7 separate regions of the Homo sapiens genome follow, and all the other regions are linked to region 1. Evidence: fine-mapped expression QTL. A gene starts in region 1. Each other region holds a variant in brackets. All regions are shown on one strand. Distances are between the middles of the regions.

Region 1 (4,065 bases):
CCCCTGAGACCCTCATCTTCTATGTCAAGAGCCCGCCCAAAACTCAGGTTCCTTGAACTGGGAAGTTATCAGATCCCTTGCAAAACACTCGTCCTTGGAGGAAGTACAAGGCAGTGAACAAACTCTGTGGAACTTGGCTTAGCTCCCGATCCTGAAGTTTGGAGTTACAGTGCAATCTCCTCAGCATCCCTGGAGCCGGAAGAGGTGACCTTGGCAGGCCTGACACCTGATGGCAAGGGGTTTCTGCTTTCTGTGCTATGTCCAGGAGTTAAAGTAGAGTGAAACCAAATCACTCCTGAGAGGGCCAGTGGCTGGATTTCAGAAACGGGGGCTGACATTCCAGGGAGTCATTTATGGGAGGGCCTGGCCTTGGCTCTTCAGCCGCAGTATCTCTCTCCCTGAGGAAGAAATATTTCCCTTGGTTTCCCAGCCTCTCAAAAGTTGTGTAATGTCAGGATGCCTTGAGCTTTTCCATACTTGACAAGTGTCATTGCAGAGCTTGGTAGATCCATAGCCAGCTGTCATCCTTGATGTCTTGCTGAACTGCAGGGATGTATTTACTTGCAGTGAATTCTTGTGATCTTTAGGGATGTGAATTTTCCTCAGCTTCGGGACACTTGTGAAATGTGACTTTTGTCCTGGCACGGAAGCTGGGCATTGGCTCCCAGATGGAAACTGGACTCTGAGAGAGGCAGAAAAGAAGGGTGGATCAGATTGTGGACTTCATGGTATGTTCTTGGGTGCTTCTCATGATCTCTTTGAAAGTTACTGACCAGGCTGGGCATGGTGGCTCATGCCTGTAATCTCAGCACTTTGGGAGGCCAAGGTGGGCAGATCACTTGAGGCCAGGAGTTTGAGACCAGCCTGGGCAATATAGCAAGACCTCATATCGACAAAAAGAAATAAAACTTAGCTGCGTGTGGTGGTGCGCACCTGTACTCCCAGCTACTCAGGAGGCTCAGCTGGGAGGACAGCTTGAGCCCAGGAATTCAAGGTTGCGGTGAGCCATGACTGCACCACTGCACTCCAGCCTGGGCAACAGAGTGAGACTTTGTCTCTTAAAAACAAAACAAAACAAAACAGTTACTGACCCAAGAGACAAATGCATTGGGCTGGGGTTGAAGGAGGAGAATGGCTGCTACAGCCCTGCTCTAGGAGCTGGGCTGGGTTAGACTCAGTGCCCACAGAGAGCACCTAAATAGGATGGATCGGTTCTAGGGTTGATGATCTCTTAGGGCCTGGGTCTAGAGAGTGAGTGTGGTTCAGCACATCTTGGGATGCTACCAGGACTGAACCAGACTTCCTAGGTTCCATGACATGGGGACATACTGGATTCTGTGACTCAGTCCATGGCAGGCTGAAGCAGAACTGAATCAGCCCTCAGCAATGTAAGGGGGGGTACCCTCGACTCCCTGGGGCTCTGTTGGATGCATTGCTTTGTGGGTGCTCACCGACTCCTCATTTCATTCTTTGCTAGGGACGCGGCTATGGTACTGGCAGCTGGCTCATGTACAGGGTTCAGGCCCCATTTTCCTTACTGGTCCTGTGTCCTTTGTCTCTCAGACCCTGTTGTCTGTCTTTCCTTGGTATGTCATGTCTGGTATCCTCAGCTCACGCCGCCACGGGAGAACTGTCCTCTTCTCAGCTTGTCATTTTGGAAGCAGCCTCCAGCAACCTTGCTTTCCTCCTCTGACTATACTCCGGCCTGCAGTGCCACTACTCACGCCCCCAAATAATTTAAACTGCCTTTCTTAGGAGACAAGAGCTAGTTGAAAAGTCTCCTCATTTTCCTTCAACCCTGTATCATGGGTGGCCTGAGAGAGTGAGGACTGAATTCATTGACTCCCCTTTCTCTGCACCCCCCACCCCCAAGGAAATAGCCGAGTTCGACTAATGGGAGTTGCCTGGCCAATCGTTGCCCTGAGAAAGTTTGGTTTGTGATCCTATTTCAGTAGGCTGATTGGAGCAGCCTTTACTTGGAGGTCGAGTCCCTCCCCGAGGGAATCCGTGTACAGTTACACTAGCGGTCGCTGCCAGTGCTAGCCCATTCAGGATAGCCCCCCTCACCCCGCCCCCAGCCCCCGCTCCTCCTCCTCCTTTTTTGTTTTTATCCAGTGTCTCGCTTCCTCTCTCTCTCTCTCTCTCTGTCTCTCTCTCCCTTTCCCTCCTACCACTGCCTCTTCCTCCCGCTCTCTACCTCCCTGCAGCGCCAAGCCGGCTCCCCAACCTGGTCTGCTGAACGCAAACCGCTGAGAGTTTGCTGCACCGCCCCCTGGGGCCCCTGGCTGCCGAGTCCCGCTAAGGCAAAGACGCCAGCAAGCGAGGAAGCGCAGCGGAAGAAAAACAAGCGGGCGCGCGAGGGGAGCCCCAGGAGGGCTGCCGAGTGGCTGGCAGGCGGCTCCCGCCCCTCCCGGGTGGCCTCGCCGGCGGCTGACGGCCCGGAGGACGCGCGCTCCGAAAAGTTAGACTCCGGGCGGCGGCGCGCTACGCCGCGTCCCCTCGCGTCCCTTCCTCGCTGCGCTCCGGGAAAGGAACTTGTTCCTTCGGCCCCAGGATTGGGGAGTGTGCCGCGGGGCCGAGGGTGGGGAACAGCCAGAGGGAGACGCGAACCAGGCCGCTGGCGGAGGGCTCAGGGGGAGCGCAGAGGCGACGGCCCCCATGCCGGCGGCCAACATGATGGAGAACCGGCCGCTGCCCGCCCTGCAGGTGCCCGAGCCGCAGGGTGCGCCCGAGGGCAGCCCGGTCTGGTCCAGTTCGTCGACCCCCACGCTTCGCCGCCGGCGCTTCAAGATGCGCCGCATGAAGAACGTACAGGAGCAGAGCCTGGAGGCCGGGCTGGCCCGGGACCTGCCCGCCGTCTTGGCCCCCGGCAAGGAGTTCCTGCAGCTGCCGTCCATCGAGATCACGCCCTCCAGCGACGAGGACACCCCGTGGTCCAACTGCTCCACACCCAGCGCGTCCCCGCGCCGAAAACGCTTCCTCCTCCGCAAGTGGCTGAGGGTGAGGGAGCGGAAGGAGTGCAGTGAAAGCAGGTACGTCCCCGTTCCGCCCGTCTCCTTCCCTTCCCTCCCGTCCTCTCCAGAGCCGTCCAGGGCCCCGGGGCATTCTGGGGGAAACGTCCTGGGGGAGAACAGGAGCCCGTCACCAGAGGCGCTTCTGGAGGGCGCTGCGCCTGGTCCCAGGGATGGTGGCATTCAGCTTCCACGCGTGCCACCCGCTCCCCAACTCAGGGTGAGGGGCTTCATGTTGCACGACACGTTTACGTGGGGCTTTACGCTGCATTCCATCTCCCTTGATCCTCGCAGCGAAATAAATAATAAAAATAATAACAGCTAATAGTTATTGAGCCCTTACCATGTGCGGGCCACTATGTTGCGCACTTCATGTACCTCCAGATTTCATCCCTACGCAAACTCTCTGAGGTAGGTATTACTATGGCTCCCTTTCTACAGAAGGAGATAGTAAAAGGCCAGAGAACAGTTAAGTGGTTTATATTTCAGGACTCCGTTTCAATCTTATTTTATGTTTGGCCACACCGGATTGCCTTAACTGGCTCACTTGTGTGGAAGTGAAATATTGACATTGAGTGAGTCACATTTCCTACCATATCAGAGTCTTTAGACATCGATACCTACAAGACTGTGGTTTGTACCAGCTAGTTTTTTGCCTAGGTCAATGTGGCATCTGGGTAATGGGAGAAGGTTGAGCTTCCCTCACGTAGAGAATTGCTGCAGGGCGCCCTAGAGCAGCTCTACACAGCCCTGGTCAGGACTGCTGCTTCAGGAAGTTGTGTCTGAGCCAAGCCCCTTGCCTGGTGGAGGGCAGGGAGTCCTCACTTGTTCATCGGTACCACGAATCCTACATATTTACTTTGAGACTTTAGGGTCCTGTCTCTTAATGGATTTGTGTTCTTGTGCGGAGCAACTGAGTCATTGATCACTTTCCCTGGAATTCCTTCTCCAAATCTGTTCAATTACATTGATTTCAATTCAGTAAGTACTTACTGAATATTTCTGTGAGCTCAGTCTAGTAACAGCTAATAGTGGTGATGTTGAGGAGGGTGTG
Region 2 (4,065 bases), 57 kb after region 1:
GCTGGTTTAATAAAACATTTTCTTTTCTTGCTTTTGTGTAAGGTTCAGAACGGTTATAGTATTCAGAGACTACGTAGCTACCTTACTCTACACAGCAGTGGGTGGAATACCTTAATACGGTGTTCAAACCTAAGGATTTCTGAGAAAGATTTTTTCCTTATTCACATTGACGCTCTGTCCTGAAGGAAAGACTTTGGAACCTTGACAGGAGTAGAGCGTAGGTTGAAGGACTGTGACATACATTTGCTGAGTGGGTGTGGCATCAGCAAGAAGGGTTGATTTTTATGAAAATGTGTTTATTAGGAAATGGAGATTGTCTCAGAGATAAGAATAATTCTTCCAGGTGTCCAGTAGAAAGCAAAATAGGTAACTTCCCCGAAGTGTGTGTGTATGGAATATAGGACATTAATTCATTCTTTTTTTTTTTTTTTTTTTGAGACAGAATCTTGCTCTGTTACCCAGGGTGGAATAGTGGCATGATCTTGGCTCACGGTAACCTCCACCTTCCAGGTTCAAGAGATTCTTCTGCCTCAGCCTCTCGAGTAGCTGGGACTACAGGTGTGTGCCACCATGCCTGGCTAACTTTTGTATTTTTTGGTAGAGATGGGGTTTCACCATGTTGGCCAGGCTGGTCTAGAACTCCTGACCTCAAGCAATCCACCTGCCTCTGTCTCCCAAAGTGTTGGGATTACAGGCGTGAGCCACTGCACCCAGCCTGATTGTGCATTTGTAAAGTCAATTTACTTAGTGTTACTCAACCCTCAACCTTAGTTTCCTCCTTTGTAAAAATTTGATGTCCATTGGATTTTCTTGTAAAGAATACATGAGAAAACATTCGTAAAGAGCCATTAAGTGGATGCTTAATAAATGGTAGCTGCTTGCACTCTGATTCTGGCTATCATAACATTTTACTCTCAGTTTCCTACCAGATCTTACACCCTTCTGTTCTTGACAAAGCAGAGACAAAGCCGGGCACCGTGGCTCACCCCTGCAATCCCAGCACTTGGGGAGGCCGACGTGGGTGGATTGCCTGAGCTCAGGAGTTTGAGACCAGCCTGAGAAACATGGCAAAAGCCCGTCTTTATCAAAACTACAAAAAATTAGCCGGGCATGGTGGCATGCGCCTGTGGTCCCAGCTACTTGGGAGGCTGAGGTACAAGATCCCTTGAGCATGGGAGGCGAAGGTTGTAATGAGCCTAGACTGTGCTACTGCAGTCCAGCCTGGGTGACAGAGTGAGACCCTGTCTCAAAAAAGAAAAAAAAAAAAAAACAAAAAGAAAAAGCAAAGGCAGAAAGAAAGTGTAGAATATTGAGCATCTGCAAATGTCACATATTTAGACTCCAGATAAATAGATTAAGTTGTGGTATTTCCCCTCAAGAAGCTGATTCTCTTATGGTGTGATATACTTACAAATAAACAAGTATAATATAATGTAATAAATGACTTAAGAAATTATGCGTAAGGTAATAAAACTGAAGAATTTTACAAGCTGGGTGTGGTGGCTCATGCCTGTAATCCCAGCAATCGGGGAAGCCGATGGGGGTGGATCCCTTTGAGGCCCGGAGTCTGAGACCAGCCGCCAACATGGCAAAACCCTGTCTCTACTAAAAATACAAAGATTAGCTGGGTGTGGTGGTGTGCGCCTGTAGTCCCAGCTACTCAGGAGGCTAAGGCTGGAGAATCACTTGAGTCCAGGAGGCAGAGAGTGCAGTGAGCTGAGATCGCACCACTGCACTCCACCCTGGATGACAGAGTGAGACTCTGTCTCAAAAGAAAATAAATAAAGAAGTTCACTAAGTGCTTACTCTGTGCTTAAACCTGTGTAATAAACCTTGCATACATTTTTAAATATATTCCTCTCAACAGCCTTATCAGGTACATGCCATTATCTGCATATTAGAGTTTAGGAAAACCAAGGCTCGGGGAATTAAACTTGCCCCAGAGAAACACAGCTACTCTGGGGTGAGGGCAGGGGTGGGAGGGTTTCCAGAAAACTCTACAGAGGGGGCTGTGCTTCAGCTGAGAACTGCAAGAGGAGTAGGAGTCTGTCACATGGACAGCATTTGCAAGCCAGGGAACAAGATGTACATAAGCATGGAGGCGGGAGAAAGCAAGGCATGTTCGGGAACCACAAATACTTCAGTGTTGCTGCAGCGCCATATCCTAGGAGAGGGGTAGCTAGTGAGTGGCCAGGAAAGGCCTTTGGACAGGTAGGCAAGTGCCTGGTCATGCCACGTCCTGCTGTGATAAGGAGTGAGTATTCTTTATGGATGACTGGAAACCAGTAAGTTA[C/T]GTTTTTTTGTTTGTTTGATTTTGTTTTTTTAGAGACAGTCTTGCTTTGTCACCCAGGCTGGAGTACAGTGATGCAATCTCGGCTCACTGCAACCTCCGCCTCCTGGGTTCAAGCAAGTGTCTTGTCTCAGCCTCCTGAGTAGCTGGGTTTAGCTGGGCGCCCGCCATCATGCCCAGCTAATTTTTGTATTTTTAGTAGAGACAGGGTTTCACCATGTTGGCCAGGCTGGTCTCAACCTCCTGATTTCAGGGGATCTGCCTGCTTCGGCCTCCCCAAGTTCTGGGATTACAGACGTGAGCCACGGCACCCAGCTGCCACTGAGTTATGTTGAGAAACTGAGCACCCGAGTGTCTTAGTGCAGGCAGCTGTAACAGAATACCATAGACTGGGTGTCTTGTACATCACAGAAAATTATTTCTTTCCATTTTGGAGCCCGGGAAGTCCAAGATCAAGATTTGGGCATTCAGGTGAGGTCCTGTTTTCTTCATAGACAGCTGTCTTCTTGCTTTGTCCTTACGTGGTAAAAAGGAGAACTCTGATCTCTTCAGCCCCCTTATAGGGGCACTAATTACATTCATGAGGGCTCCACTTTCATGATTTACGGCCCCACCTCTTAATACCATTGCACTGGAGGTTAGGATTTCAACATATACATTTGGGGGTGGGGCACCAACACTGAGTCTATAGCACCAGGTAGCTCCCAAATATTCTTGTGAGAAAAATCACACCTGGGAGGTGTTCAGAGTTGAGTCCTAGCCCCTCCGGGGCTGTGGAGGATGGATACCTCCCCCCGGAGCTCTCCAGGCCGGGCATTTGGGCATGGTATAATGGAAAACCTGTGGCCTGGCATTAACTGGCTGCCTGGCCCTGCTGTCTGCTAGGCACCACGTAAGGGATTCCAAGATGAAGACATGGTCCCTGCTCTTGAGTAATTTTTCAGCCCAGTGACTTAATATGGCCATCAGGCATCAAGAACAAGGCCATGGGGGTGATGACGTGTCGGAACGGAGGTGTGAACCTGGGGAGCCGGATCTTCTCCCCTCGCCACCCCACGGCCCTGACTGAAAGCTTTGGCCCTCCTCCTCCCCCGTTGCCACCCCATGGCCCTGACTGAAAGCTTTGGCCCTCCTCCTCCACTGTCACACTCAGTGATGGGGAGCCCTACCCTAGAAGTGTATCTCATGAGAGCATCAGGGATGCAGTGAAAGAGCGATGCTCAAGGGAGACAGGAAGAGAGAGCAACATAAAGATGTGGCTCCATGTCCATGGTGCACCCTGGTCAACAGAGGAAGGGGCGTGGGACCCGATGGAAATTTGGAGCTCAGGGAAAATAGTTAGGGGGGGGCGGTCCTTACCTCTCTGCGTACCCCCTTAAGGTTGACCCCTTAGATGGCCCAGGAACGGCAGGTGCTAGAGGAATGGTATCCACCTGGGCATGGAAGTGGGGCAGATTCAGGGGCCACTGGACTAAGGGGAGAGAAGGGCTTGTCAGCACCCACCCAGGGAGCCTGTCCATTTATGTCCCCAGATAAAGGGTCCTAGAAGAGTTAAAAAAAAAAATTGAAATCATGCCTGGCCTGTGGTTAATGTGTATGTGCCTATTAGTATTATTATCATTAAAACAGTGGGTCGAGGACGAAGGATTTGAGGAGCAGAGGTGGCAGTGAGTTTAATTTAGTCATGTAGAGTGAACTACTCATGGAGTGTGCCAGTGGATAGAAACACTAGGCCATTGGCTACACCGTTTGAAGCTCAGGGGACAAGACTGAGA
Region 3 (4,065 bases), 44 kb after region 1:
TAATATTGTTTTAATGGAAGTTCAGCAATTACAAAGTAGTATGTATGTTCTTGCAATAAAATGGCCATCAAGAGAGGAAAACTAACGCTGGGTGTGGTGGCTCATGCCTATAATCCCAGCACTTTGGGAGGCCAATCCAGGTGGATCATTTGAGGCCAGGAGTTCAAGACAAGCCTGGCCAACATAGCCAGGCATGGTGGTGCGGGCCTGTCATCCCAGCTACTCAGGAGGCTAAGGTGGGAACTTGAACTCAGGAGGCAGAGGTTGCAGTGAGCCAAGATCATGCCACTGCACTCCAGCCTGGGCAATGGAGCAAGACTCTGTCTCAAAAAAAAAAAAAGAGAAAAAGAAAAAAGAAAGAAGTGGAGAGAGAGCCTTTTCTTTTGTTAAACACAGACATGGGCATGTTCAGAGGTGAACTATTTTATTTTTTTAGTGATATGGTTTCACCCTGTTGCCTGGGCTGGAGTGCAGTGGTGTGATAATAGTTCACTGTAACCTTGATCTCTTTGGCTCAAGCGTTCCTCCCACCTCGGCCTCCCCGGTGAAGCAGCGTTGTTGTCTGGGGTAATACCCAAGGTTCGTCATCTCATGCCAAGAAAATTAAGGACACAGACACACATGAGGAGTGAGTTTAGGAGTGAAGGTTTAATAGGCGAAAGAAAGAGAAAGAACAACTCACTCTTGTGAGAGAGAGGGGCACCCAAATGGGAATTACGCCAGGTGCTGTGGAGTGCACCAGATTTTTATAGACAGGCTTGAGGAGGTGGTGTCTGATTTATATAGGGCTCACAGACTGGTTGGACCAGGTGTGACGTTTACATAGCCCAGGGGGAAGGCTGGCCACTCCACCCTAATCTTATTATCCAGATGGGCTTTCCACTTGGCTGGCACCATGTTGTCTGCTCCTTACCATACATGTGGCTGGCAAAGAGAAGGGAAGATGGAGCCACCATTTTGAACATGCCTAGTCCCAGGTAGCCTTTTCCTATTGGCACAACTGCTGGCATTCACCCATGGAAGCTTCCAGCTTGCTTGTCTATGTCTGCAGCTAAATTTTACAGGCTGCTCTTTGTTAGAAAAGAAAATGATTTGGGGGATGCTTTTCATTAACAGGAAAATCTTACGGAGGACTTCCTTACCCTCACTATCTGCCTAAATAATTTCTTCTTTTATTTTTTGAGACGAAGTCTCGCTCTTGTCCCCCAGGCTGGAGAGCAATGGTGCAATCTTGGCTCACTGCAACCTCTGCCTCCGGGTTCAAACAATTCTCCTGCCTCAGCCTCCCGAGTAGCTGGGATTACAGGAGTCTGCCACCATGCCTGGCTAAGTTTTGTATTTGTAGTAGAGACGGGGTTTCACCATGTTAGCCAGGCTGGTCTCGAACTCCTGACCTCAGGTGATCTGCCCACCTCGGCCTCCCAAAGTGCTGGGATTACAGGCGTGAGCCACCGTGCCCTGACAATTTCTTCTTAACTCCCATATCACCAGTAGCTAGGACTACAGGCACACACCACCACACCGTGCTAATTTTTGTTTTCATTTATTTTTTGTAGAGATGAAGTCTCACTGTATTACCCAGGCTGGTCTCAAAACTCCCGGGCTCCAGAGATCCTCCTTCCTCAACCTCCCAAAATGCTGGGATTACAGGTGTGACCCACCTCACCCAGTCCCAAGAACCATTAAATAGAGAAGTATTCATGAGTTGTAAGGAGCTAGGAAGATATTTAGCTGGATTTTGAATCCCTGAATCTTTGACCAGGGATTCTACCCACCTTGCTGCAGGTTCCCATGGGAGCTATTAAGCAGAAGTGAACCTTCTAACT[C/T]GGTAGACAAATTCTCAATATTCACCTCAAGTATGTTATTTCTAAGTGGTGTTTGAGGATATTGAGGGATGTTCTGTAAGGAGGTGGCAGTACCCCAGTCACATTTGTTTACTTATTTTCTATTATTAGACTTGTCCATACCTGCTTGCCAGGTGGCACACAGAAACTCCTCCTTTATTCTCTCCATCTTTGCTACCTGCCTTCTCTTCCCCCATACACCTTTCCTACTTAAGCTGAAATAGTAAATGCCAGAGTCATTTTATATGTAGAAATAATTTAGCATGAAAACCCAGCTCTCTCTTCTGTCAGTGGTGGTGAGGCCCTACTTTTCAGGCTAAGGGCCTTTTCTGTTATCTTTCTCCCATGCACTGGCTATTTCAAAATATTCTGACACACTAACTGAATACTCAGTGTAATAGATATCCACCATTTATGATACACTCACCAAGGGCCTGCTACTGCCCTAAACATGTTCTACAGATGATTTCTACCATTTCTAATCCCCACTGCAATGTTTTCTTTTTTTTAACTTTTAATTTTTTTTAAAGTAATGGCAATCTTGAATCCAACAGAACTGCAGTCTTTTAAGGCATGCATTATTACCCACATCTGACTGTTAGAAAAGTGAAATAATTTTCTCAATCTCCCCCTCTGCTAAGTGGCAGAGTCAGGACTAGAATGTGCGTCTCTCTGACGCCATATCCTGAACTCAGATACTGTGACTGGATTATTCACAACTTAATCCTCTGTGCAGTTCTATAAATAGAGGACTAAGTTGTGAGTAATCGCAATAAGTCTCCATTTTTCAGGAAATAGGCTAAGGGAGGATAAGTGACTTGGCCAAGGTTAGAAGGCTAATAAGAAACAAAGCCTATGTCCCAAGGACCTCAATCCAGAAAAACAAAAAACAAATAAAGGCAGGGGGCAAACCCAGGTTTGTCTGCCTTGGTGCTATTTCTACTGTATCACTGCTTAAAATAATATATTTCCCCATTTTTATTAACAAAGACACAAAGACATCTATAACTGCCACTCAGAGCCTTTTGCAGCTTCTAATTAGCATGAGATAATTGATACTAACAGGAGAGATTGCCTCAGTTGCAGCCAGAAGTAAAGAGATGCAGTACATTAGTCTCTGCAGCCTGGGTGTGGGTAAATGTAGTTTCCATCAGGCTCTGGAAATACTGCATTACAGCCTACATGCCCCCATGACGGCTTGGGACCACCTGAATCTCTCAGAACCCCTTCTGGGCATAGGAAGCTATGACTCCTGTAGGGTTGCCTGGAAGAGAAAGAGCTGTTTCTCCCTAGGAAGCACCTACTCAGTAGAGGTTGCCATATTCCGTCTTTCTAGCAGTAAAGCCGTGCCTTTCAGAGGGCAGAAGGACGGCTTCCTGGTGGTTCGTGGGTTTAGTCTGTACTTTCTGCACGTGTCCTGGGTACAGGGAGGGAGGAAGGGAGATCACTGGAATCATGAGAATTTGCCCAGCCCGCATTGCAGAGCTTCCTGGTCAAAGCCTAGTGAATTTCTCCCTTGTGGAGCGTGCTTTGGCTCAGATTCCTGTGGATTTTTCCCAGTCCTTCCAGTGCTGCTGGTATTAATGTGACCTTCCAGGATAAGCTCCTGCACTAGCACGCTGGTCTTAAACAAAACCAGGATTCTGCTTCAGCTGGTTTCCCTCAGGAATATCCCAGAATTTTACCAAGAGCTTCCCATCTTATTTAGGAACATGGTCTAGTGTTCCAAAATTTAATTTATACAGTGAATTTTATCTGAAGCTTGAATGTACAGCAGGAGGGATTAAAGTCATCCTAGTTCCATATCTAGCTGTCTTGAGCGAATGGCAAGCAGTTGCTTATACAAATTCCCTTCCTTGCAGTGTTAAGCCATCTTTCAGTCATCCGGTGCCCAGGCAAGGACATTCCAAATCCTAGTTTAGAGTTTCTTTTTCAGGGTTTCCAACAGACAGTTTCATCTGTTAGTGCCCTCTGCTGGACTTTCTCCAAGTTCTTTTCAACCTCCTGAATCCCAGAGTGGACGCAGACTGGATGTCTTCTCCCACTAAGGCCTTGACTAATCTGGAGTGGAGGGAGGTGTGCTTTTTGACCTTGTAGCATGCTGCACTCCTTTATAAACACCTTGGCCTGGAGGTTGCTCTTTTCATGGTCTCCGAAGACTGGTAGGTTTATTTAGGGAGCAGCGTGAGTTGCCTGGGGTCCAGGTGGCCTATATCATTGA
Region 4 (4,065 bases), 37 kb after region 1:
GCCTGTAATCCCAGCACTTTGGGAGGCAGAGGCAGGCGGATCACCTGAGGTCAGGAGTTTGAGACCAGCCTGGCCAACATGGTGAAACCCCATCTCTACTAAAAAAAATACAAAATTAGCCGGGTGTGGTGGTGCATACCTGTAATCCCAGCTACTAGGGAGACTGAGGCAGGAGAATCACTTGAACCCGGGAGGCGGAGGTTGCAGTAAGCTGAGATCACACCACTGTACTCCAGCCTGGGCAACAAGAGTGAAACTCCATCTCGAAAGAAAAAAAAAAAAAAGAAACACACTTAGGAATATTGTTTGAGGGTTCTTGGTGGAGAGGAAGTTGGGACATTGTAGGAAACAGAAGTGAAAGCTCTCTGTGTGTACTGGCCTGACTCTGTGAGAGGAAATGGATGGAGAAAATACTCGAACTCCTCATTAAACTGGAGCAGTTTAGTTAAAGGGCTCAAGATCATACTGATTGTTGAAAATAAAGATTTGGGCTGGGCATGGTGGCTCACGCCTGTGATCCCAGCACTTTGTGGGGCCTACGCGGGCGGATCACTTGAGGTCAGGAGTTCAAGACCAGCCTGGCCAACATGGTGAAACCCCATTTCTGCTAAAAATACAAAAATTAGCTGGGAGTGGTGGTGGACGCCTGTTATATCAGCTACTTGGGAGGCTGAGGCAGGAGAATGGCTTTAACCTGGGAGGTGGAGGTTGCAGTGAGCCAGGATTACAGCACTGCACTCCAGCGTGGGTGACAGAGTGAGACTCTGTCAAGGAAGGAAGGAAGGAAAAGAAAGAAAGAGAGAGAGAGAAAGAGAAAGAAAGAAAGAAAGAAGGAAGGAAGGAAGGAAAGAAGGAAGGAAGGAAAAAGAAAGAGAGAGAGAAAGAAAGAAAAAGAAAGAAAGGAAGAAAGAAAGAGAAAAAGAAAGAAAGGAAGAAAGAAAGAAAGAGAAAGAAAGAAAGAAAGAAAAGAAAGAAAGAAAGAAAAAGAAAGAAAGAAAAAGATTGACTGACTGATTTGGGCATAAAATGGATTCTGGCTTGCCCTGGGCTTAAGAACTTTCTGCAGCTTTTCAGCACTGACTTCTTTCTCCAACATGGATACTCTGCATTGGGAAGCAAGAGATTTTCCACAGGCAGGAAGGGGACCCAGGGAGTAGGGGTGGGGGAAAGTGAGGGGATGGTGCGTGTGTGGAGAGTGGAGGGAGGCTGGCCTTGAGGCTGGTCCAGGGTTTTGACCAATTCTTACAAACTTCAAGTTCTGGGAAGCAACTTGGTTGACCACATTACCTTCTGAGTAAAGGTTTAGTAAGGGATCTGGTTAATTTGTATTTATTCTCTTGAGAGAGCTGAAGATTTCACTGTGAAGTTAAGTAGTGATTGAGGCCAAGGAAGCTAGTAGGATGTGGGAAACTAGAAAAAGGTGGTGTGCTCCTTTACCTAAGAGCAAGTGAAGAGAGTTAAAGCTGACAGTTTCTCCTTGCCCCTTTTCTCAGAACCCATTTGAGGAATATAATGGGGTAAGTATAATTATTTTAATTATGTGTGGTGATAGGCCTAGAATTTTATTGTAGGTGAGGGATCATTTACCCTTTGTGAAAAAGGATAAAGAATATTTATTTATTTTTCCTAGCCAGAGCTTCATGATCTGTATTCACGAGAGCTAAGGATTGGCATGAAAAGTTAAAGCTTATAGATAGGCTGGGTGTGGTGGCTTTCGCCTGTAATCCCAGCACTTTGGGAGGCCGAGGTGGGAGGATTGCTTGCACCTAGGAGTTTAAGATCAGCCTGGGCAACATAGGGAGACCCTGTCTCAATTTTTTAAAAAATTAATACTCATAGATAATTCAGAAAGAAACAAACAAAAACGTTGTAGCCTTGGTTTTCAACACCTTTTTTTTTTTTTTTTTTTTTTACTGACTTTCACTGGTTGTGCCTAAATGGAGAGCCATATTCTTTCCTGCCCACCTTCTCATGGAGGCGCTGTCAGGCTTGAGATGCAGCTTCCTCATGTTGGATAACTGAGAATTGGACC[A/G]CAACTTTGACACGGGGGCAGGAAAGAGGAGCCCTGGCATTAGGAAGATTCTGGCGGGTTTTGTTACAGTGGCTTCTTTATGGGGAAGGTCCACATATGTCTAATTCAAGTCGGCATCGCCAGATGTCTGGAACCAATGCCTAAAACATAGTTGGTGGAAACATGGATGGATGAATGACATATCAGGAGTGGTGGGTTCCCTGAGGTCACGGGCCATGCCTTACACATCCAGCACGGCCTAGCAGGGTCCTTCCTTCCTTCCTTCTTTTTCTTTCTTTTCTTTTCCCTCCCTCCCTCCCTCCCTCCCTTCCTTCCTTCCTTCCTTTCTTTCTTTCCTTTTTTGTTTTTGATGGAGTCTCGTTCTGTCGCCAAGCTGGAGTGAAGTGGCGCAGTCTGAGTTCACTGCAACCTCTGCCTCCCGGGTTCAGGCGATTCTCCTGCCTCAGCCTCCCGAGTAGCTGGGATTACAGGCATGCCCACCACACTCAGCTATTTTTTTGTATTTTTAGTAGAGACAGGGTTTCACCACGTTGGCCAGGATGGTCTTAATCTCTTGACCTCGTGATCCACCCGCCTTGGCCTCCCAAAGTGCTGGGATTACAGGTGTGAGTCACCGCACCCAGCCTCAGGGTACTTTCAACATAGATGTTCAAAAAGTATGCACAAGGAAGGAAGGTGCAATCTGTGCTGATTTGAGAGTACTCAGCAAGGCGTCTTTCTGGGCAGACCAGTGAGTACTCAGTGGAAGTGGAGACTTTTACAAATACATCAAGGGAGGATAGGGCTAGATATTTGCACATTCATCAGATATGTATTATACACCTAATATGTGCTAGGCACTGTGGGTGGAAAAAAATGACACAATGGGACCATCGCTCTCAAATAATTTATAGTATGGTAGAAGGTTTAGGGAAATGAATCATTAATCGCTGCATCCCAAGGAGTATGATAATTGTTATGATAAAGGTTAGTGCAGGCCAGGTGCGGTAGCTCACGCCTGTAATCCTGGCACTTCGGGAGGCTGAGGCAGGTGGATTCCTTGAGTCCAGGAGTTCAAGACCAGCCTGGGCAAGATGGTGAGACCTTATCTTTACAAAAAATACAAAAATCAGCCCGGTGTGATGGTGGCACAACTGTATAGTCCCAGCTACTCAGGAGGCCGAGGTGGGAGGATTGCTTGAGCCCGGGAGGCAGAGGTTGCAGTGAGCCAAGATCCTGCCACTGCATCCAGCCAGGGTGACAGATTGAGACCCTGTATCAAAAAAAAAAAAAAAAAAAAGTAGTGCAGGGTGATATAGGACCATAATGTGGGTGGTGGTCACCAAGGAAGATTTACTACTTTTGAAGAATAATAGTAGCTATAATATTGTGTGTCTACTCATCTCTCCAAGTATGTGTGGGTGTTTATTTAATTCTCCCAAAACCCCAAGAACATAGATGCTATTGTCACCCCCATTTTATAGAGGTTGGACATCAGCAGCGTAGGTGGAAGAGTCGACTTGAACTCAGGCAGTCCAAAGCTGGGACAAAGAAGGGTGAGAGAAAAGGCTCTACCAGGCCAGTAGAAAGGCAAATTAAAAGGCAGAGGCAAGTAGAAGGGCTGGAGTGGAGAGCGGAGGTGACGTGAGGGAGCTGGGTAGAGAGGCAATAGCCAGGTTATGAGGCTGTTACTGCTCAGATAAGGAGTTGGAACTTGCTCGGAAATCATGGGAAGGCTAAAGGATTTTAAGCCAGGAAGAGACATGATTAAATCTGTGTTTCTGTAAGACCATTGTTTCAGTGTCAGGATAGACTGGAGTGGGGCCAGAGTGGCAATGGGGAGGGCAGTGAAGAGCCTATTAAAGTAATCTGGGTGAGGAGTGATGAGAGCTTGGTTTCAGACAGAGGCCGTCGGAGTGATGAATGGAAGGCGGATGGATTCGAGAGTCACTAAAGAAGTAAGGTCTGTAGGACTTGGTGTCAAACTGATGTGGGGTTGCATTTCTAGTTCATATGAATCTTTACTTGTGGAGTATAAGGAGAGGAGAAAAAGA
Region 5 (4,065 bases), 130 kb after region 1:
ACATAGTAAGTGAGTGGGGAAGTTAGGACTAGGACTCTGGCCACTTGATTCCACCAACCCCTGTGTCTATGCCTTAATGGAGGAAAGGACATTCAGTGCAACTTTTTTTTTTTTTTTTTTTTTTTTAATGCAGAGTCTTGCTCTGTCGCCCAGGCTGGAGTGCAGTGGTGCGATCATGGCTCACAGCAACCTCTGCCTCCTAGGTTCAAGAGATTCTCCTGCCTCAGCCTCCCGAGTAGCTGGGATTACAATTGTGTGCCACTATGCCTGGCTAATTTTTGTATTTTTAGTAGAGATGGGGTTTCACCACGTTGGCCAGGCTGGTCTAAAACTCCTGAGCTCAAGTGATTCACCCGCCTCTCCCTCCCAAACTGCTGAGATTACAGGCATGAGCCACCATGCCCAGCCCAAAGATATTTACTGAATATGTGTGTACCCAGTACTCCTACATGCTGGAGGGACATGAAAGAAAAAATAGCCTACGATCTTCTCAGGGATGTAAAACCAACAGAGGACAACAGAACCTGCAATTAAGTTCTAAATGTATACTGTAAGGGCAGGGGCAGGAGAGGTACCCAACCGTTCTCGGGTGCTTTCACATGCTTTTTTGACTTCATCATCTTTTCAACAGTACAAAGGAGGAAATATGTAGTATTAGCATTTTCAGATGAAGAAACTGAGTTTGAGATAAGAGTACGTGGGTGACCAACAAGCAATGCAACTCAGTTTTGGTTTCAGATCTGACTCTAGTCCAAGATCTTTCCGTGGATTAACAGAGAAGAGCCAGAAAGGCATTTCAGAAGAAGTCGGACTTGAGCCAGACAAGGAGGGAGGCTGAAATTGGGGCATTGCCAATATACCTTTCTTTGGAGCTGGGATTCCTCTAGGTAACGGAGGCAGGGCCAGACAGCCCAGAACTATCTGCTTCCCGGATACTGTGCGGCTGCTGTTCTATCAACGGGCTGCAGACAGAAGCAATCTTGGAAAGACTTTTCATGATGAGCCTGCAGGGGCTGGCCCTCCCAGAATGAGACATTTTGCCAACAGATGCCCAAGAAATATTAGCTCTCAGCATGAGTTCGAGCAGGATGCAGGTGACATCAATGGATTGTAATTATTATTCACCTTCAGCATGTTTTCCTATGCAGCTGCAGTGGACAGACAAAACTGTCTTTTTGGAAGATTCAAAGCATGAGAATGCATAAGCCAAACATTTGCTGTTCAGGGTGGTCCCGGAATAGCAACGTGGGCATCGCCTGGGGTTTGTTAGAAAGGCTGACTTTTGGGTGGTCCCCTAGACCTGCTCTATCAGAATCTGTGGGTGAAGAAGATTCTTAGGGGATTAAAGTTTCCCAGGCATTGAGCTAACCATCATCATTGTTAGTGTTGTCGGTTTTGTGCTACATCCCTCAAGAGATGACAATGGTTCTCAAATAGTTGGGGTGTGAGGCAATTAGTTAATCGCCATGGGTCTAGAGGCAGGTGATCTGGATTCCCAGCTCTGCCTCTTTCTTGCATGGGACCTTCACTTTTCCAGGACTCAGTTTCCAGATCCACTAAACAGGTCAGTATTTAGGTGATTGTGGTGGGAATGAAATGATTGAATGTAGGCAAAATGCTTTGTAAGTCATGAATGACTTTCAAAATATTATTAATATCGTTGCTGAATAGAATACCTCGCACTGCCAGAACTTTCCTCTGGGGGCTGTCTGAGTACTAATACTGCATTTCGGTGAATGGACAGAGAAAAAAAAAACACTTCTAAGAGGTGCAGCTTAGAATTAGAAGACCCAGACGACTCTGCTTTGCCACGAATGTAAGTGCTTTCCCTGAGTGTTACTCTTGCTGTCTGTGAGAGCCTGACCTGCGGGAGAAGCGAGCATCCTGGAAGTCTGGGAGCAGCTACACTGAAGAGGCCCTCGGCCATCTTTTCTTGCGGATTATGGTCTCAGTGCTGGCCTCCTCTCTTCCTCTACTCCCAGGCCTCGGGCCGTGAGAGAGCCGCCATCCTTTGAAGGATGCACGACTCTCTTTAGAGCCAGGCACCTGTGTTTTTATTTAGTGTCACCTCCTTGATACAGGTCGACCTAGTGGGCAGCACCTGGGAAATAATTGGTGGCAGCGAAGGGAGCAGAGTCTCCGGGGAACATGGTCTTGTATTTTGTCGGATTGAGGGTGAAGAGGAAATAACCCCCCCCCCCGCAGCCCCAGCGGCTCTGTCCTCCACGCTGGCATGAATAATTGAGCGCCGGCAAGCTGACTGCACCAAAGAGTTGCATTATGTAAACCGGCAGGCG[ACGTGTGTG/A]CGTGTGTGCGCGTGTGCGTGTCTGCGCGCAAGAGGGGTGCGTGTCTGAGTGTGTCTGTGCGCCTGTGCGCGTGCGTGCCTGAGCTCAGAACAGCTGTCTGTGAGGGAGTCAGAGGGAGAGAGAGAAAGGGAGCCAGGCAGAGAGAGAGAGGGACTTCTGTAAGGCGGCACGACCACACCAAATAACAGCAGCAGAGGGAGGTGGGGGAGAGGGAAATAAAGGGGAGTCATGCTTAAAATGCTACAGCGGTGTGAAACAGCAGAGCAAAGAAGCGCCCCCAGCTTCTGAGAGCCCTGGCCCGAGTCCCCTCCCCCGTTAGAAACAGGGCTTTGGGATGGTCATGGAGGTGAGTGCCCTCCAGCCTCCTCAGGGCCCCCGCTCCCCGCCCCCGCCCCCCACTGCCCAATGCATGAATGAATGAGTTCCTCTCTGCACTGCACTCTGCTACTGTTCCTACCTAATGGCTTCCAGGTTAGTGCTAACTCGTGCTGACGCCTGGTGCGTGTGTGTGTGTGTGTGTGTGTGTGTGTGTGTGTGTGTGTGTGTGTGTGTGTATCTTTGTTTCCTCGTGGGATTTTTTGGAAGCGGTGGCTCTGTCCTGGGGTCAGAATGGGGCCCTGGGGGCTGTGGTGAAGACCTGTCTTTCTGGTTGTGTGCTTTTCTCATCTGACGCAGGCTGCTCAGAGCTGCCAAGAACACAAACCTTTCAAGGCAGAGTAAATCCGGAGTCCATGTTGTTTGCTTCTGTTTTCTGTTCTGGGGATCCGAAAGCAGCCAGTGTGACATCATGCTGCAGAGATGCCACCTTCTTTTCCCTCCCTAGCCTTTTCTTTTCTCCTCTATAGTAGCACTGCTTGAGCTGAGCTCTGGATCACGGAGGGGTGGCCCTGGGGTGGGCTGGAGAGACAGGCTGGGTTGAGGGTGATGATGGTCTCCTTGTCCAGCAAGACTTAATTCAGTGCCCTCTAACTTGGAGAAAGGAGGGCAGAGGAATGAATTAGTGGCACAATGCATCATGGAGAACTGGCTGAGAGCTTCTGGGGGAGGTGTGGACAGGCCATGTGCTCCTGTTCTCCACCTGCTGGCTTCCCTCCGCAGTGCCTCCGGCGGGGGTAGGAGCTGGCCAGAGCTGTGGTCAGGAAGATATGGACAGACACTGCTTATCCCACAGGGAGAGGGCCATGGGACAGATGGATCTGGCCAGCAGAAGGAGAGGATGAAAGGGGAAGTTGATAGCTCTCATCTCAGAGAAATAAAAGGATTTGTTTATTCTTTGGCTTAGCCAGCATTTGGCGCAGAGATTTGCCATGTATTTTGAGAAAATAGCTACCCAGTGGCTGGGCCTTACTCCCCCACACCTCCTTGCATTGTTAGTTATTTGCTTGATTTAGGAAGTAGAGGGCTGGGGGAGGACTTGGAGCTTGCTCTGTCCCCGGGGCCTCAGCCAAGAGCTCAGGCAGGGCTAGAGAAAGCCATCTTTGCCTCTTCTCTGGTACTTGCTAGCACACTGTGCTCCGGGGAGACCCCCTCGCTCCTCTACCTCCTGCCTCTCCTCCCTCTGCAGCTGACCTTGAATGGTGGTCATATTTCTAGCCTTTGCCTTGGATAGCACTCGGCAGGTTAGAGAAGTTTGGAACCAAGATGAAAAAAGCTGGCCTTGGAAGAAGGGTAAGGGAAAGGGATGATTTTGGGAGCCACCCGGAGCAGGAGATTGATAATGTCAAGGCCATGATTAAAAAGTAGTGCCCCGTGAGGATTG
Region 6 (4,065 bases), 180 kb after region 1:
GGCCAGCGTTTCCTAGCATAGTTCACTGGGAACCCAATCTGGGGAGCAGGTAGAGAGGAGATTGGTTACATTGTTGTCAGTTTCTTCAAGGAGGCATTCTGGAGCAGATGGGCTCTCCGTATTCTAGTGGCATAGCCCGGGGTCCAGAGCTGGGGCTAGGTGCCTGGGGTACAAGACTGGGTTTGACTTCTGAGCAGATGAAAACCATTTCAAGCCCACTGTGCTGGGCTGCTGCTGATCAGCCCTTCTGGTAGAGAACAATTCCAGGTATTTTTTCACTGCCTTGATCTGACGTCAAAGTCATGCATGAATATAGAACTATAGAACAATTAATTGTTTATCCACTCATTTGGTTGATATTTGTTGAGTATACGTATTGTGGCTTATTTCTCCACTGTGGTAGACTTTATGGAAGCCATAAAAATGTGTAAGAGAACCTCTGTCCTGTGGGACTCTGTTAATAGAGGAGGTAGAACCTTGATGAGGAAAGAGGGTCAGGGCATGTGCTGGCAGGCAGAAGAACAGGTAGGGTTCTTCAGGAAAGGACTCCCTCAAAGAGCCTTGTATTTCAGTAGGCTATGGATCAGACCACCTGCCTTCAGAATGAAAACATTATTCATTGGATACCTGGTCTTTATTTTCCATCTCTGAGGTTATCTTTAAAATGTAAAGAGTTGTATCGATTCCCTTCCAGGGCTAATGAGAGAATGAGTTTTAAAAAATGCTTATGAAGCCTTTCGAGCTTCTTAGGATAAACAGGTACTACCTGGAGGCAGGCTGACCTTGTTGCAGGATGGTGCAGGTGCGGCTCCAGGAAAGGGCCTGGGCCTGTGGGGACCAGCTCTGTGCATTTGGGGAGCTTGTTGTGCTGTTGGAATGGCGAGCGTGAGAAGTGCAGTAGTCCTTGTACTGTGTTTGCCCATCCTCTGTGGCAGCTCTGGGGAAGGGCTTTGGAGCCTGACTCTGACTTCGCTCCTGAGCAGCTGAGCTGGGAGTATGAGAGCTGCCAAGGCTGCATCCCTAATCTCCCTTTGGAGAATAGATCCAGACCAGGTTTCCCTGGTGGGTGACTCCTCTGTCTTGGCTCCAGTTTGATGGGCTGCCCCTGGAGGAAGAGGCGCTGGAGGGAGACGGGTCCCTGGAAAAGGAGCTCGCCATTGACAACATCATGGGGGAGAAGATTGAGATGATCGCTCCTGTGAACTCCCCTTCACTGGACTTCAATGACAATGAGGACATCCCCACTGAGCTCAGTGACTCTTCCGACACACACGATGAAGGTGGGCATTTGAAAATGGGTCTGGAGTGGCCCTTGCTCTGTTTTGAAGGCTAAAAGGAGATCTCTATGTGGGGACTGTAGTTAGTCTCTAGGTTCCTGGTGGAGAGATGGGAGCAGAGCTTCCTTAACAAAAGGTACCTGTTATTAGTTTACATCCCTGTTTTCAGTCATTTGCTGTAGGAGCCTCCCATAGATAATGCTTTGTTCTGTCATTTAGTCTTGTCACTAAATGTTCCCCCTATTGACATTGGCTTGCCTTGCGACCCTGACCCTCACAGACACGCAAGTCTAGGCAATGTTTATAAGCCACAAGGAAGGTGCCAGTCAGCTGCTCCCTGGAAATAATTAGATTTTAACAGAAACGTCCTCAAGATAGCTGCGAAACTTGTTAATGCAATTTTTGCTGCATGGGGTATTTAGGCCCAGCTAGAAGAAAAGGTGTTGCTGGGTCAAATAGGGTTTGGAGACTCCCTTGTTTCTCTAATTTTTGTAAGCAGGTAGCTTCTAACTT[C/A]ATGCCTGCATAGGATTAGCTTCTAGAACCTCCCTTGGGAACATGCTGCTGCTTACCTTCCATGGAGAGAAGCCAAATTCTCAGCATTCATGAAATCAATTGATGGATTTCCTCCATTGAGTGAGTGGTCTGTTATGACTGGTGAGCATATGAGCACGGTGCTCACTTGTGGATCTGTGGACACCTCTCCCAGGGGCCACCTGCAGTGGTTTTCTAACTTTTGGTTGGTTTACCCACCCCCATCTAGAGTCCAGGGTTGGCACAAGTGACTGCATGGGTTAGATACTGCCTAACTCCAGGGTGCCTTTCACATAAACTAAGGTGTGAATACCCGCTGCGCTGCACTTGTGCAGTACCCATCTGTGCAGTCATAGGACTTGACCCCTACAGGGTACTTCAGAGTTCTCTGGTTTCCTCAGGGTCCTAGGGGTGCCAGAAATGGCAGCCTCCTCCTGAGATCACATACCCACCCATGCAGGTGCAGTAATTAGGGACTGAGGGGTGCCAAGGGTTCGGGGGGGAGCACTGAGGCTTTAGCAGCTCTCCTGTATCCTCATTTGCATCCTCCTGTAGCAGCTGGAAAATTCAGATTACAGGTGAAATTCCCTGGCTGGCAATCTTCTGTATATGGACACAGTGATGTGCCAGAAGGGCTTTGCATCCCTGAGACTGAAGGAAGCTCCATTTTTGGAGCCCTCCCACACCTTGCTCTGTGTGCCTCTCATTCTGATTTGAATTCTTATTTTGCTATATGATGAAGCTGTAATCCTAAGTTTAAAAAGGGGAGTAGGTATTGACATCATGGTAGAAATAGGCTGTCTTATGGAACTGTAGTTAGGGATCACAGCCTATTGGACCAGCCCCAGCCTTAGCAGCAGTTCTGTACACTGATTCTTCCAGATTAGTCTACGTTCCCTCGAACAGACCTATGCCATGGGTTACAACTACAATTTGTTGTCGATTAGAGTTAACTTACAGACTCTCAAAACCCCATTCTTTGGGTTTAGGCAACTTCCAGAAGTAGTCATTTATTTGAATTTTAGTCTAAGATCAACTGAATTAGGGAGGTTTGAAAGTGTAAAAGCAAATCGTACATTCCCAAACACTTTGTAAAGAAGGAATGGGTAGTGTCAGCTAAAGGAAATGGTGTGCATCCCAGCAAAAGAAAGAGACCGAAAGCAAAGTCATAAACCATGCCCACGAGCTCAGCTGTCCTGCTCCGTGTCCTCTCCATACCCTTGTTGACTGTGCTCATATTAGCCAGAGACCTAAGTGCTCTTGGAGGATGTCCCTGGGGCCCCCTCCCCCTCCGCTGTCACTGTCTACTTCCTGATCCTCTCTTCTGTGCAGGAGAGGTCCAGGCCTTCTATGAGGACCTGAGTGGCCGGCAGTACGTGAATGAAGTCTTCAACTTCAGCGTGGACAAGCTCTATGACCTCCTCTTCACCAACTCGCCCTTCCAGCGGGATTTCATGGAGCAGCGGCGCTTCTCTGGTCCGTTCTGCTGGGACTGTACCCCCCATTCCTCCCTCTTCATCCTCACTTCTTCCCTCTCTACATTTGCTTCCTTCCCTTCCTTATTCTTCTTTCCACACACCCTCCTTCCCTCGGCCACCTCAGGGCCCAGACACCCTCTCTCCAGCCTTCTGTGGTTCGGGAGCTCCTTCAGGCCCTGTTGCCCTCCCTTTTCACCAGCCCTGCAGCTTCACCCTTTCCCACTACACACCAGGCACTCGATGCCGGCCCCTAAGACCTACCCTGTCCCTCCCCTCACAGGGCTCACCATCTAGTAAAGCACAGTGGCTCTCACTCGCTGGCAGCACCCACTCTATGCCATGCACGTGACGTTATCTCATTCAGACCTCACAGCTACCCTGTGTGTGGACACCGATGAGGCTGCTGGAACTCAAACTGTTAGTGCTTGCCTGACCTCATGCAGCTAAGAAGGAGCTAGGCCGGGCCTCACATCTAGGATCTGGGGGTTCATGCTTTGACCCTCTGTGCTTCTGCCTCCTCCCCTTCCCCCAAACTCTTCCCACAGCAGGGACCTCTAAGCATCCAGCTGTAACAAAGCATTTGGGCATCAGCGATCCTGTGTGCCAAGAGGAGAGGGCACGCTGAGGGCACGGGGAGGTCATGGCTTAGAGGAGAGGACTTGTTCCCAAGGGACCCTAGGCCCTCGCCACAGTAACACCAGTGTTGCCAGCACCCCCGTAGGTGGCCCCAAGACCTCCTGTCCCAGCCCCAGGAACAATCAGCATTCTGGAGCATTGTG
Region 7 (4,065 bases), 30 kb after region 1:
CTGCAGGCCTCAGAACCAGAGAAGCTGATGTTGTAACTCTCGGTTTGAGGCCAAAGGCCTAGAACTCAGAGAGCCACTGAGGGACAGAGAGAGGAAGAATATAATCCAACTCTGGCAGTTCCATTCACATATTCACCTTTTCTCAGTTTTTGTTTTCCAGGCCCCCAGCAGAATGGATGGTGCCCACTCACAATGAGGGCGGATCTTCCGCACCTAGTCCACTCAGACTCACATGCTGATCTCTTCTGGCAACATCTTCACAGACACGCCCAAAAATAATGCTTTACCGGGTTCCTAGGTAGTCTTTAATCCAGTCAAACTGACACCTAAAATTAACCATCACAATTACCTTCTCACTAAAATCAATCTGAGAAGAAAATGGTCATAAAGAATTTGATGCAAATCCCTTTTTTGATTTATAGGATGAACAGTATCCTAGATAAGGAAACAGTGAAAGGCTGTTTTGTTTTTTTTTTTTTTTCCCCTCCTCTTCATACTCCCCAATGTGAGTAATGGGCAAAAAATTCCAGGAGAATGGGAGCATTCTGAGTGATAAGAACAAGTATCTCTCAACATGTAGAGTGTGTATACGGGTGGGTTATTTTCAAATTTCAAGTCTGCAAATGGGTAGTTCCAGGTATGGCTTGGTGATTGAAGTGGAGGTTCTTTTGGGGCTAGTCCTTTGTGCTCCTGTAATTTCCCCCCAACTCTGAGTCTGAGCTCAGTGAGAACAATCACTTTAATGCTTAATGCACACCGTAATACACAGCGGAGTTAACAGAATATTCAGACAATCACAGACACAATGGCCTTCCTAGCCATGAGTTTGGAAAAGTGTTTCTAGGAGCTTGTTGTAGCAGAGGCTGTGTAGATGACAAAGAACATGCACTGCATTGTAGATGGGTTATAGTTATGGTGACCAGCCCTTGGAGTTAGGGCAGATTGGGGTATTTGATTGCAAAGAAATAAGACACTTCTATATATTTTTTTTTAATTTGCTGATCATGGGAAAATCTTCATGAACCCTTATCTTCTTTTTTTTTTTTTGAGATGGAGTTTTGCTTTTGTCACCCAGGCGAGAGTGCAGTGGCATGATCTGGGCTCACTGCAACCTCCATCTCCTGGGTTCAAGCAATTCTCCTGCCTCAGCCTCCAGAGTAGCTGGGATTACAGGTGTGAGCCACCATACCTGGCTAATTTTCTATTTTTAATAGAGGTGGGGTTTTGCCATGTTGTCTAGGCTGGTCTCCAACTCCCGACTTCAGATGATCCACCCACCTCGGCCTCCCAAATTGTTGAGATTACAGGCATGCACCACTGTGGTCGGCCATATTCATGATTTAAAGGAATTGAAGATAAAAGAATTGAGTTTGATAAAAAAGAGAGAGAAGAATATTATTTTCTTCAAATACTGACTTTTAAGTGAGATAGTGTGCAAAAAATCCATATACTAGGTACTCAAATACCTGTTAGTTGACCCTTCCCCTATGATGTGAACTGGTTATTCACAACTATCTTTATACTTTAAGTCCTGTTCCTAAACACACACTGAGGTTCTGGAGGGCAGGGCTGGGTCTT[AG/A]GTAAATTTGTTCTGCTACCTTCTCACTGGACACCTGGCTCACCCAAAGCTTGCCTCTCATCTGTTTTCTGTGTACAGATTGCCATTCAAAAAGTGTTTTCTGAGTGAATGAATTATTTACTTTATGGAGCATCAACATCCTTTTTATGTTCTTGTCCATTTTTATGTCCTTGTCCTCACCCTTGTCCCTTCAAGTTCAGTGGGTCCCAGAACTGAACTTGAAGAGAGTTAATTGGATATAGGCCAGGAGTGTGATTGGACATACGTGTGTGTGTGTTTCATTAAAATTCTCAAACTAAAAATAAATGGTTTGTGGATTAGTCAACTTCTGTTTTCTTCTGCTCGATATCCTGAATTATCCAGTACCTGTTGCCTCCATGCTACTGAAAAGTGACCATGTGTGGTATGACAAGCTTATCAGAAGGCTGTCAAAGTGCTTGGCAGAGAAGACATGGAGTTTAATCCTGAGTGGAAAATGGCATTGTGGAAACAGATGAATTATAGTAGATGAATATAGTAGAAAATATAGTAGATGAATTAAAGTACATGAATTATCTACTTTGTGGACCATCAAAATCCTTTTTATGTTCTTGTCCAAGTTCAGTGGGTTCCGGGACTGAACTTGAAGAGGGTTAATTGGATATAGGCCAGGAGCGTGATTGGGCAGATTTGTGGCAATTACACCTAGACACCGTGACTCCAGCCCCAGTCAATGCGGGGATTTCTCCCCAGGCCCCCCAGGGCACTCTGTGAGTGTTAATGACCAGAGTTTTTGGTTAGGACTGTTTTTATGTCTTCCAATTGGAAAAAACAAGATAATGCTTTTACCATAAGCCAGTTTTTCCCGGGGCTAAGGGCAAATGAAATTGGATGGTGGTTGGGTCAGCAGGATTTGGGGGGCGGACAGGAGTGGGGCAGGGAAGGGGAGGCAGGAAGCTGAAAGGATTCTTTCTGGAAAACAGCACAGCTTGCGGGCTGCTTGTCCTTGAGCTCCGAGGTCACTAGAGCGGTTGGTCTTTGATAGGGTTTCTGCATGAATCCCCTGCTCCTACGTTTCCTTTGTCCCTTTAGGACCCAAGAATCCATCTGCCTTCCCAGGTGCATCAGCTTCTCCTTTCCTTGGGCGCCTCTTTCCTGGGCCGTCCAGGAAGAACACAAGGCTCTCTGTGTCTTTCCCACCTCGTGACCTTTTGGAATTCACATATTTTTGGCTTTTTAAGAGGTTTGGCTTGTGTTGACTAGAGGGAAACAGGTGATAGCAAAATTAATAGCCAGTTGGGAAGCCATAGTCATAAAAAATGTCTTAAAAACATATTGAGTCTTAATTGAGTTTGGTCTTCAATCAGATGTGAATGGACCAGTGCTCCTGTTGCCTGGGCTGCTTCTAAAATGTTCTTGTCAGTTCAGTCGTCTTTCTGGGGAATCAGCTGCCCCGACTGACTCCAGGTTGGCTCCTAAATCAAGCTATGTTGACTTCAGCTGGCAGAAAAGCCAAGCTGGCACTGCTACCAGGACTGTTTCCTAAGAGTCCCCCAGGGCACCAGCATTTCTGTCTGCAGCTGGCCGAGCCCTTGTGATTCCTGTCCTTGTGGCTAAATGAGGTGGTGCTGGCCTCTCTGGTTCCCAAAGACTCCCCCTTGGGCTGCAGGCCAAACGTCACTGGCCTCCTAGAAGTCTCTCCAGCCCTGGCTCTAGCTCTGGGAAGTCCTGGCCTATGCCTTGGCACACTGCTCTGTCTTTTTTGGATTGTCTATGGTTTCTTCCCCAGCTGGTTGTTGAGACAGCTCTACTTTTTGTTGTTGTTGTTGTTTTGTTTTGAGACAGAGTTTCGTTCTTGTTGCCCAGGCTGCAGTGCAATGGCGTGATCTCGGCTCACTGCAACCTCTGCCTCCTGGGTTCAAGTGATTCTTCTGCCTTAGCCTCCCGAGTAGCTGGGATTACAGGTGTCCACCACCACACTCGGCTAATTTTTGTATTTTTAGTAGAGACGGGGGTTTCACCATGTTGGCCAGGCTGGTCTCAAACTCCTGACCTCATGCGATACCCCCGCCTCAGCCTCCCAAAGTGCTGGGATTACAGGCATGAGCCACTGCGCCCGGCCAAGATAGCTCTACTTTCAAGTGCAGGTTTTTTTTTTTTCTGGTATGGTCATTTGTTTATTTCTTTTTTTTTTTTTTTTTGAAATGGGATCTTGCTCTGTCGCCCAGGCTGGAGTGCAGTGGCACGGTCTTGGCTCACTGCAAGGTCCACCTCCTGGGTTCACGCCATTCTCCTGCCTCAGCCTCCCGAGTAGCTGGGACCACAGGCGCCCGCCACCATGCCTGGCCAATTTTTCTGTATTTTTAGTAGAGATGAGGTTTCACCATGTTAGCCAGGATGGTCTCGATCTCCTGACCTCGTGATCTGCCCGCCTTGGCCTCCCAAAGTGCTGGGATTACAGGTGTGAGCCACCGTGCCGGGCCAGTCATTTGTTTATTTCTATGGTT

Which allele goes with the higher level. Alleles are on the strand shown, and positions count from the first base shown. SD is a standard deviation of normalised expression in the study named. Not every link is listed here.
As copies of G replace A in region 4, the expression in left ventricle of the gene that starts at base 2,135 in region 1 goes up (small effect, 0.24 SD a copy in GTEx).
In carriers of allele ACGTGTGTG in region 5, the expression in thyroid of the gene that starts at base 2,135 in region 1 tends to be lower than with A alone (small effect, 0.23 SD a copy in GTEx).

What was found.
Region 2: its variant is fine-mapped to the expression of GRAMD1B in thyroid (GTEx, PIP above 0.99).
Region 3: its variant is fine-mapped to the expression of GRAMD1B in whole blood (INTERVAL, PIP above 0.99).
Region 4: its variant is fine-mapped to the expression of GRAMD1B in left ventricle (GTEx, PIP above 0.99). The same link has a PIP of 0.9 or more in monocytes.
Region 5: its variant is fine-mapped to the expression of GRAMD1B in thyroid (GTEx, PIP above 0.99).
Region 6: its variant is fine-mapped to the expression of GRAMD1B in whole blood (TOPMed, PIP above 0.99).
Region 7: its variant is fine-mapped to the expression of GRAMD1B in whole blood (TOPMed, PIP above 0.99).

What each region holds. Positions count from the first base shown.
Region 1 is chr11:123,428,135-123,432,199 of GRCh38, forward strand. It overlaps GRAMD1B (GRAM domain containing 1B), which reads left to right and starts at 2,135. Exons shown (of 20, transcript NM_001387025.1): 1 at 2,135-3,032. The coding sequence starts at 2,659. LOC124902776 (a long non-coding RNA gene) reads right to left here and starts at 3,080. Exons shown (of 2, transcript XR_007062928.1): 1 at 2,813-3,080; 2 at 1-682. RefSeq lists silencers at 2,273-2,602, 2,713-2,762.
Region 2 is chr11:123,485,300-123,489,364 of GRCh38, forward strand. All of the region lies in intron 2 of GRAMD1B (GRAM domain containing 1B), which reads left to right. Among named protein-coding and RNA genes, the nearest start is that of GRAMD1B, 57 kb to the left of the region's middle. The variant C/T (reference allele first, on the strand shown) is at 2,294.
Region 3 is chr11:123,471,901-123,475,965 of GRCh38, forward strand. The region is part of intron 1 of GRAMD1B (GRAM domain containing 1B); the gene reads left to right. Among named protein-coding and RNA genes, the nearest start is that of GRAMD1B, 44 kb to the left of the region's middle. The variant C/T (reference allele first, on the strand shown) is at 1,827.
Region 4 is chr11:123,465,505-123,469,569 of GRCh38, forward strand. All of the region lies in intron 1 of GRAMD1B (GRAM domain containing 1B), which reads left to right. Among named protein-coding and RNA genes, the nearest start is that of GRAMD1B, 37 kb to the left of the region's middle. The variant A/G (reference allele first, on the strand shown) is at 2,033.
Region 5 is chr11:123,557,876-123,561,940 of GRCh38, forward strand. All of the region lies in intron 2 of GRAMD1B (GRAM domain containing 1B), which reads left to right. Among named protein-coding and RNA genes, the nearest start is that of SCN3B, 95 kb to the right of the region's middle. RefSeq lists enhancers at 1,609-2,272, 2,273-2,935, 2,936-3,599. The variant ACGTGTGTG/A (reference allele first, on the strand shown) is at 2,298.
Region 6 is chr11:123,605,519-123,609,583 of GRCh38, forward strand. GRAMD1B (GRAM domain containing 1B) reads left to right here. Exons shown (of 20, transcript NM_001387025.1): 11 at 1,091-1,280; 12 at 3,141-3,284. Among named protein-coding and RNA genes, the nearest start is that of SCN3B, 47 kb to the right of the region's middle. The variant C/A (reference allele first, on the strand shown) is at 1,791.
Region 7 is chr11:123,458,226-123,462,290 of GRCh38, forward strand. The region is part of intron 1 of GRAMD1B (GRAM domain containing 1B); the gene reads left to right. Among named protein-coding and RNA genes, the nearest start is that of GRAMD1B, 30 kb to the left of the region's middle. The variant AG/A (reference allele first, on the strand shown) is at 1,579.